Homo sapiens: one gene and its partner. The protein of the gene in region 1 interacts with the protein of each later gene in a pairwise test. Each region holds a gene or a part of one and is shown on either strand. Other genes may lie near its edges.

The links.
Region 2: the proteins of TMEM123 (region 1) and ZHX1-C8orf76 interact in binary tests that used the Homo sapiens proteins (3 or more experiments, as listed by UniProt).

The regions. Positions count from the first base shown.
Region 1 is NC_000011.10:102,397,120-102,400,871, forward strand, and holds part of TMEM123 (porimin precursor), read right to left. Parts: intron 1,773-3,752; coding exon 1,748-1,772; 3' UTR 1-1,747. UniProt on the Homo sapiens protein: Implicated in oncotic cell death, characterized by cell swelling, organelle swelling, vacuolization and increased membrane permeability.
Region 2 is NC_000008.11:123,225,691-123,229,438, reverse strand, and holds the end of ZHX1-C8orf76 (zinc fingers and homeoboxes protein 1), read left to right. Parts: intron 1-2,806; coding exon 2,807-2,966; 3' UTR 2,967-3,248; downstream 3,249-3,748. Other genes in the region: uncharacterized protein C8orf76, read left to right, coding at 2,807-2,939.

The DNA of each region.
Region 1 (3,752 bases):
CAGAAAATTTCCTCCATACTCCATGTATGTGTTACATACATCCAATCATATCCATATTTTGGATCATTTTTTTCTATATTCATCAGATTATTGGTTAAAATGCACAGCAAGTAGAAATGATCCATTTCAAAATTCTTAATATCTAGCGTTCTCTGTAAAACAAAAGCTGACAACAGTTTTATTGTACTCCTATTAAATGTAGGTGCATGTTCATTAGGACATCTGAGCTATTTTTAGGACCTTCAGAAACTGGTGTGATTCACTTTGGCCCTCTGAGATAGAAATGCCATCTTAGTATTTACTGTGACTACATACCTCTTTTGTTAAAACTTGACCCTGAGTTTTGAGTGCTGGAATATAAACTGTAAAATGGAAAACACTCCAAAATACATTAGCTAATATTGGTGTCTCTACAATACTGTGCTTTTTCTCTCCATTAACATAATGCATCTGAGAGTACTTCTCCTTCAGCATGGAGTAAGAGGAGGGATTTGAGGGAATATCCAAATCAGGAAGGAGGAAATGTCCTCTCTAAAAATTCCTCTCAAAACTTTCTAAGAATTTATTCTAAAATATTTTGGTGTTTGTTTTAGTATAAAAATGTCATTTCCCCAAATCTGAGTAATATCGACAGTGCATGAAAGAAAATATAGCATTTTCATCCTGCAGGTTTAGTTGCCTGGGGGAAGTCCCACAATCCCTGGCTTAATAAACACAGCATTACGCTATAGTTTTGACTCTATAGAATTCTAAATGTTCTTTTGAAAATCATACAAGCGGTTCTTTTTCTTAAAGTTAGGTGTGTTTACACTCAATTAAAAATTTCTAGATATTGAAAGCAGCTCTACAGTTCTTAAAATATTCACAAAATATAAAATTAAAATTAAATGAACTAAAGTAACTTCCAGTGGTGACAATATTCTCACAGTAGCAAATAATCTAACTTCTAGGAGGTTTTTTCCCTATAATGCCAGGATTATTTAATACTGACAACTAAGTCTTTAAAACATTATTATGTTAAACACTGCAGTTTACCTAAATTACACAGAGAACAAAAATTACATCAACATTGAAAGCTCAAAAGAAGTTAATAAAAATATGTGCTCCTTAATGCTCCAATGGATCCCTAACAGGGCTAAGCAAAGCTATTATTTTGGGTTTTATTTGAAAATTTTCTTTTTCTTGGAGTATTTTGTTTCTAGACCAACTACTACAGTTTAAAGCACAAAAAATGTTGATGTTTTTCTTAAATTATGCTTCAGATCTAGTTTGATTGTATAATTTCTGTGTGGCATTAGTAATTAAGATATATCCAGCTCTGAAAAGCACTGAAGTTCTTTATGTGAGCTACAAAAGATACCCAAAATCCTGAGTGCTGTGACAAACTTCTTATTTGTATGCCCAGATGGCATTCTGTCTTTCAGTGATGACGTCTTTCAATTACTGGTCATATGTGACCAATGCCCCCACCCCAGCCAAAAAAAAAAAGATAGGACTTGTTTGTCTTACTATGAACTTGCTAAAACCATTGTATGAACGGTCTATAAGGATCCAGATGTTTATTTCAAAACCCAAACCCTTGTTACCTTGAAGAATCTTTACATATTTACGTAATACACTGTACATTATATGCATGGCCTGTTTATACTATTTTCAAAAAGAGAATATTGTTTTAAACTATTAATAAACCAAAATTAATTGATAGGGCAGCATCAATCTGTATTCCATCCTTGGTCCATGGATTTCCTTAAATGATGGCATCATGTTCATCTCTGTAATATATTAAAAGTTACAATTACTTTGTTTTGTTTTTTCTGTCAAAACTACTTATGTTCCTATTTGTTAGTAAAGTAGGATTAGAACAATTTCAAGCTGCACAATCAAAATGGTCAGTGTTCTGTGTAAAGTTCCTTAAGTATCCAATATACTGTAGTGGTTAAAGATCTGGGGGTTAATGGCATGGGGATCCACCATCTTGTCTTGCTGCAATCATAGACACAGACATAGCTTCTATTTGTAAGTCCCTATTAAATATTTCTTTCTAGCTGGTCACAGTGGCTCATGCTTATAATCCCAGAACTCTAGGAGGTCAGAAAGGAGGATCACTTGAGCCCAGGAGTTTGAGACCAGCCTGGGCAAAACAGTGAGACTACCATCTCTATAAAACATTTAAAAATTAGCCTGGTGTGGCATTGCATGCTTGTAGTCCCAGCTACTCAGCAGGCTGAGGTAAGAGGATCACTTAAGCTCAGGAGGCTGAGGTTGCAGTGACCCGTGATCGCACCACTGCACTCCAACCTGGGTGACAGAGCCACTGCAAAGCACTCTGTTTAGTCATGGTTTCTTTTATGTATTCTTTCATGTATTGACCTTAAAAAAGAATGTTTCTGAATATGCCTTTAATCTGACAAACCACCACCTTAATATTCTTTTAAAATCAGTTTGAGCCTACAGCCATGCCACTGTGAATGTGTCTGATCTCATGTGATCATGGAAGCTAAAGTGAGTTTGATATGATAAATATATGCAACGTAACTTTAAATATAACTTTTAAAAATATGTTTTTAAGGCCAGATATGGTGGCTCACGCCTGTAATCCCAGCACTTTGGGAGGCCAAGGTGGGAGGATCACCTAAGGTCAGGAGTTTGAGACCAGCCTGGCCAACATGGTGAAACCCCATCTCTACCAAAAATACAAAAATTAGCTGGGCGTGGTGGTAGGCACCTATAATCCCAGCTACTGGGGAGGCTGAGGCAGGAGAATAGCTTGAACCCAGGAGGCAGAGGTTGCAGTGAGCCGAGATCGTGCCATTGCACTCCAGCCTGGGCAACAAGAGGGAAACTCCATCTCAAAAAAAAAAAAAATCTGTTCTTAAATTATCATTTTTGTTTAAGTATTAGTAATATAACTGTTAGATCCAATTTTCATTTATGATGCGATGTTTATTTAGAGCTTATGTCAGTAACCTGAAAATCTGGGAAACTTCCATGTTCTTAAAATCTATCAAGAAGTTTGATTTACTTTTATGTGTACTGAATCATATGTAGTGTCAAAACTGGAAGATTCCAATGGCCTATTCCAACATTTCCCAAAATGTGTTCCACACAATACTAGTTCCAAGAGATAGACAGTGTTAGCTCCCATTGAAGAGGGGCAGGGGGAGGGATTTATTCATTCAACAAGTATTTTGGTTAAAAATTTGGGAAACAGTTCATACTGTATTCCATCCTGGAAAATCATAATGTATATCAATATTTTAAAGGCTTAGAGAAGTCTTATAGTAAACTGTCTTAGTTTACTTTAGTCAACTGAACATTTCCCACACTTTTTGATATAGGAACTGTGTGTGTGGGACACATGTATGTCAAATGTTAACCCACAGGGCAAATTTTGGAAAACAGTCATCTGTTCTATGGTATTTATATACATTAACACTAAAAAAAGTGAATTAGCTCTTACATTTGTGTCACCCAATATGAGTATGTTGAAACCCTAATCCCAGTGTGATGATATTTTGAAGTGGGGCCTTGGGAAGGTAGTTAGGTCGTGAGGGTGGAACCCTCGTGAACAGAATTAATACCCTTACAATTAGAGGTCAGAGAACTAGCTCGCCTTCTTTCTGCCATGTGAAGAAGGCCCTTACTAGAACTCAACCATGGTGGCACCCTGATCTTGGACTTCCAAGCCTCCGGAAGTGTGAGAACTAAATGTCTGCTGTTTAAGGCACCCAGCTGTATGATACTTTGTTGTG
Region 2 (3,748 bases), on another chromosome or scaffold:
TGGTCCCTGTAGGAACCCTTGTCAGTTGACTGAGTGCTAGATGCTTTGTATACATTATTTCATTTTAATCCTCATGACTCTGGGATACCTATTGGGATCCCACTAGATGGATCAGGAAACTATTAAAATCATTCCCAAAGTGGTGCAACTGTGAAGTGCAGGGCCAGGATTTGGAGCTGGTCTCTGATTCCAGACCCTGTATTCTTTCAGCTTATCTTGCTCACTCCACGTTAATATTCCCCACGTGGGAAGAGGCATGCTAGGTAAAAAGAAGGCACCGCCCAGAGGGGCAGAGGATCCGTTCTAGAACAGTGTTGTCACATTGTCTGGTGGTAAGAGCAGCATTGGTGGTAAGGGCTCAAGGTAGGCTGTGGCCACAGTGCCAGGGTGGCAGAGGAAGTAGGAAGTAGGACTTTGGCGTCAGAACTGGTTTTGAAGAACTTAGTCAATTGCTGATGCTAAGTGGATGAACCTGAACTCTTGCAAGCGGTCTGACCTTGCACACATTCCTTAAACTCTGCTCTCTAGTTGCTTAATCTTGACAGATGGAGAAATGGGGAAAATGCCTGCTTCCTGGGGTTGTAGAATTAAAGTATTTAAAGTACTTATTGTCCTGCATGGTATGTAGTAGGCATTTGGTAAATGTTAGATTAGTACTTTTATTTTTGTTGTTTTTATTGTTAACACAAGATGTTTGGTGTCACAAGGGTTTGGTCTTTGTGCCGAAGGCCTGAAGAGTATTTGCAGGTTTTAAATACAGGAGCATGTGATAAGACCTGTGTGTGTGTGTGTGTTTTGGGTTTTGGTGTTTTTTTTTTTGAGACGGAGTTTCACTCTTGTTGCCCAGGTGGGAGTGCAATGGCGCGATCTCGGCTCACCGCAACCTCTGCTTCTCAGGTTCAAGCAATTCTCCTGCCTCAGCCTCCCGAGTAGCTGGGATTACAGGCATGCACCACCATGCCAGGCTAATTTTGTGTTTTTAGTAGAGATGGGATTTCTCCATGTTGGTCAGGCTGTCTCGAATTCCCGACCTCAGGTGATCCACTGGCCTCGGCCTCCCAAAGTGCTGGGATTACAGGCGTGAGCCACCGCGCCTGGCCAAAACCTGTGATTTAGAGAGCTCTGGTGACTGCGATGCTGGATTAGAAGGAGGAGCTAAGGACTAGAGGTTGTAGAGTAATTAGTGGAAGATGATGAGGGCCTGACCTAGGCTGGTACAGTGGTAATAAAAAAAAGAAATGGATGTCACTGCACGATAGAATAGACAGGACTTGGTGACCAGCGGAGTGTGTGGGAAGGTTGAGGGTGAGGAGACCGGAAGAGTCTCTGCAGAGTCTCTCGAGGATGCACAGGTGGATGGTGGTGCCTTCCGCTGAGATAGGACATCTGGGAGGATGAGCAGAGCCGATTTGGGGTGGAAGGCAATGATTTTAGGCTTGAAGTACCGAGTCGCGGGTGCCTGGAGTATATCCAGAGGGCAGAAAGCAAGTTACATCAAAGGGGTAACGAAGGTGAATGCTTCCCGAGGCCGGGTAGGTGATGTCAACAGGTCAGACTGAAGCAGACAGATGATCATTTTACCTGTGAGTCAGGTCAGGCTCCTTTCTGAAACGCCCGGATGGCTTCCCATTGCACTTACGTCAATTCCGCATTTCTTTCCATGGCCTGCAAGGTCTGATTTGAATTGGCCCTGCTTTTTTTTCCCACCTCATTTACTACACATTTTTCTCTCTGACTGTGTTCCAGCCACAGTGATCTTAGTGATTTTCAAGCATATCAAATTTGTTCCTGTGTCAGAGCCCCCTTCTCCCTGGCCAAGCCCTCGCCACCAGATGTTCTCCCACTGGTTCCTCATCAGGTAGCTCGTAGCTTGCCTGGTATCTCAAGGAAGCCTTCCTGCCTATACCGCCGCATCTGAAGAGGTTACTGTGTCCACCCTGTCTTGGGTTTTTTTCCATAGCACTTGTCACTACCTGAAATACTTATGTGCTATCTCCCTCCTTCCATTCATTCCATGAGGCCACAAGTGTGTTTTGCTCATCAGTATCTCTCATTGCCTAGCGTAGTGTTGGGCATGTTCCACAGCATGGAGAGCCAGTGCTTCTGGGCATTGCAGTAGGTACCAGTGAGAAAAAAGGGGAAAATCTGCATATTGAGTATTTATTAAAAAAAAAAAAAAAAAGGAGCCAAATGAGGAAGACAGGAGGAAGTTAAATGAGAGAGGAGACCAGCTATGATCATGACAGGGAAGTCAGTGGTAAGGTATCGCAGAGTGGTTGTCAGAGGGTCATCAAAGATTTGGCCCTGCTTGGGGTAATTGAAGTGTGCTAGCGAATCTAATTAGTCCTTGCGGTCAAGTTGCTGTGGGGTCAGCGAGATGGAAGGGTCACAGAACACTGACTTCAAAGGAGCAAATCCAGAGGGCCTGTGTGAGAGGAGTCTGATTGGGAGGCTCGTTCCTTTCACTCCAAATTACTTATCCTTTCAATCCCTTGACTTCCACAGGAAGCTCTTTTGAGGCCGGAAGCTCTTTTCAGGTGTTGCTCTCTGAAGATTTCTTTGAGCAGTTTTAGTCTTTATATTTTAGAAAAGATGAATCTCCAATGTAAAGTTGGGCAATTGATTCCAAGTCGGAAGCTTTAGGGATTGAAATGATAGTTCTAGTGAGGGTGGGTACCTGCTTTTTAACCTGGTGGGACTTGCAGCCGACTCAATACCTGGGCTTTCTGAACATTTCCTCGCGGCTTTCCTTTATCTGGAAGCGTTGGGACTTTTCGCCACGCATTGAGACTTTTCGGTTTTTCAGGCTTCTGCTTCAGTTTACCCAACCTCAGCAAACATCGTTTGCTTTGGAGAGGAACTTAAGGACTCAGCAGGAAATTGAAGATAAAATGAAAGGGTTCAGCTTCAAAGAAGACACTTTGCTGTTGATAGCTGAGGTGAGTGTATCCCTCGGGTTTATGTGAAACGAAGCATCATAGATATTTTCCCTGGCTCTGATAGCATTTTTTATAAAGCAGGGCCAAATTTAATCTACTGAAGGACTTGTCTCCCTCCTCTGTGTGCCTTTTGATCACTCAGCAATCACCAAGGCGGCCTCTTGATCGGCATTCCCCTGCAGCGTGCGGGACCGCAGGGGCTGTGTTTCATGTACTTGTCAGTGCTTGTTAGCACCTGCCTGCCTGAACATCATCAATGCCCAATAATTGTTTGTTTCAGTGCTGAATAAATGAATGAATGAATGCTTACATTTGTGTAGCAGTTCTATTTTTTTTCCTCCATTCATCATAACAGCTTGTGAAGTTGAGTAGAGCTAGAATTGAGGCTCAGAGAACTTGTGACTTGCCTGCGGTCAGATTTTCAGTGGGAGAGCTGGTCTGGAGCTTGTGTTTGCCAGCTGCAAGTCCATTTTATTCCTGCTCTACCCTGTTACTACTTTGATGGTTGCATAGAAATTCAAAGGTAATTTTTTTTAAACTAACATGTAAACCTTCATTAACTTTTTTTTTTTTTTGAGACAGAGTCTTGCTTTGTCTCCCAGGCTGGAGTGCAGTGGCACGATCTCGGCTCACTGCAACCTCTACCTCTTGGGTTCAAGCGATTCTCATGTCTCAGCCTCCCGAGTAGCTGGGATCACAGGCATGTGCCACCACGCCCTGCTAATTTTTGTATTTTTAGTAGAGACAGGGTTCACCATGTTGGCCAGTCTGTCTTGAACTCCTGGCCTCAAGCAATCTACCCACCTCGG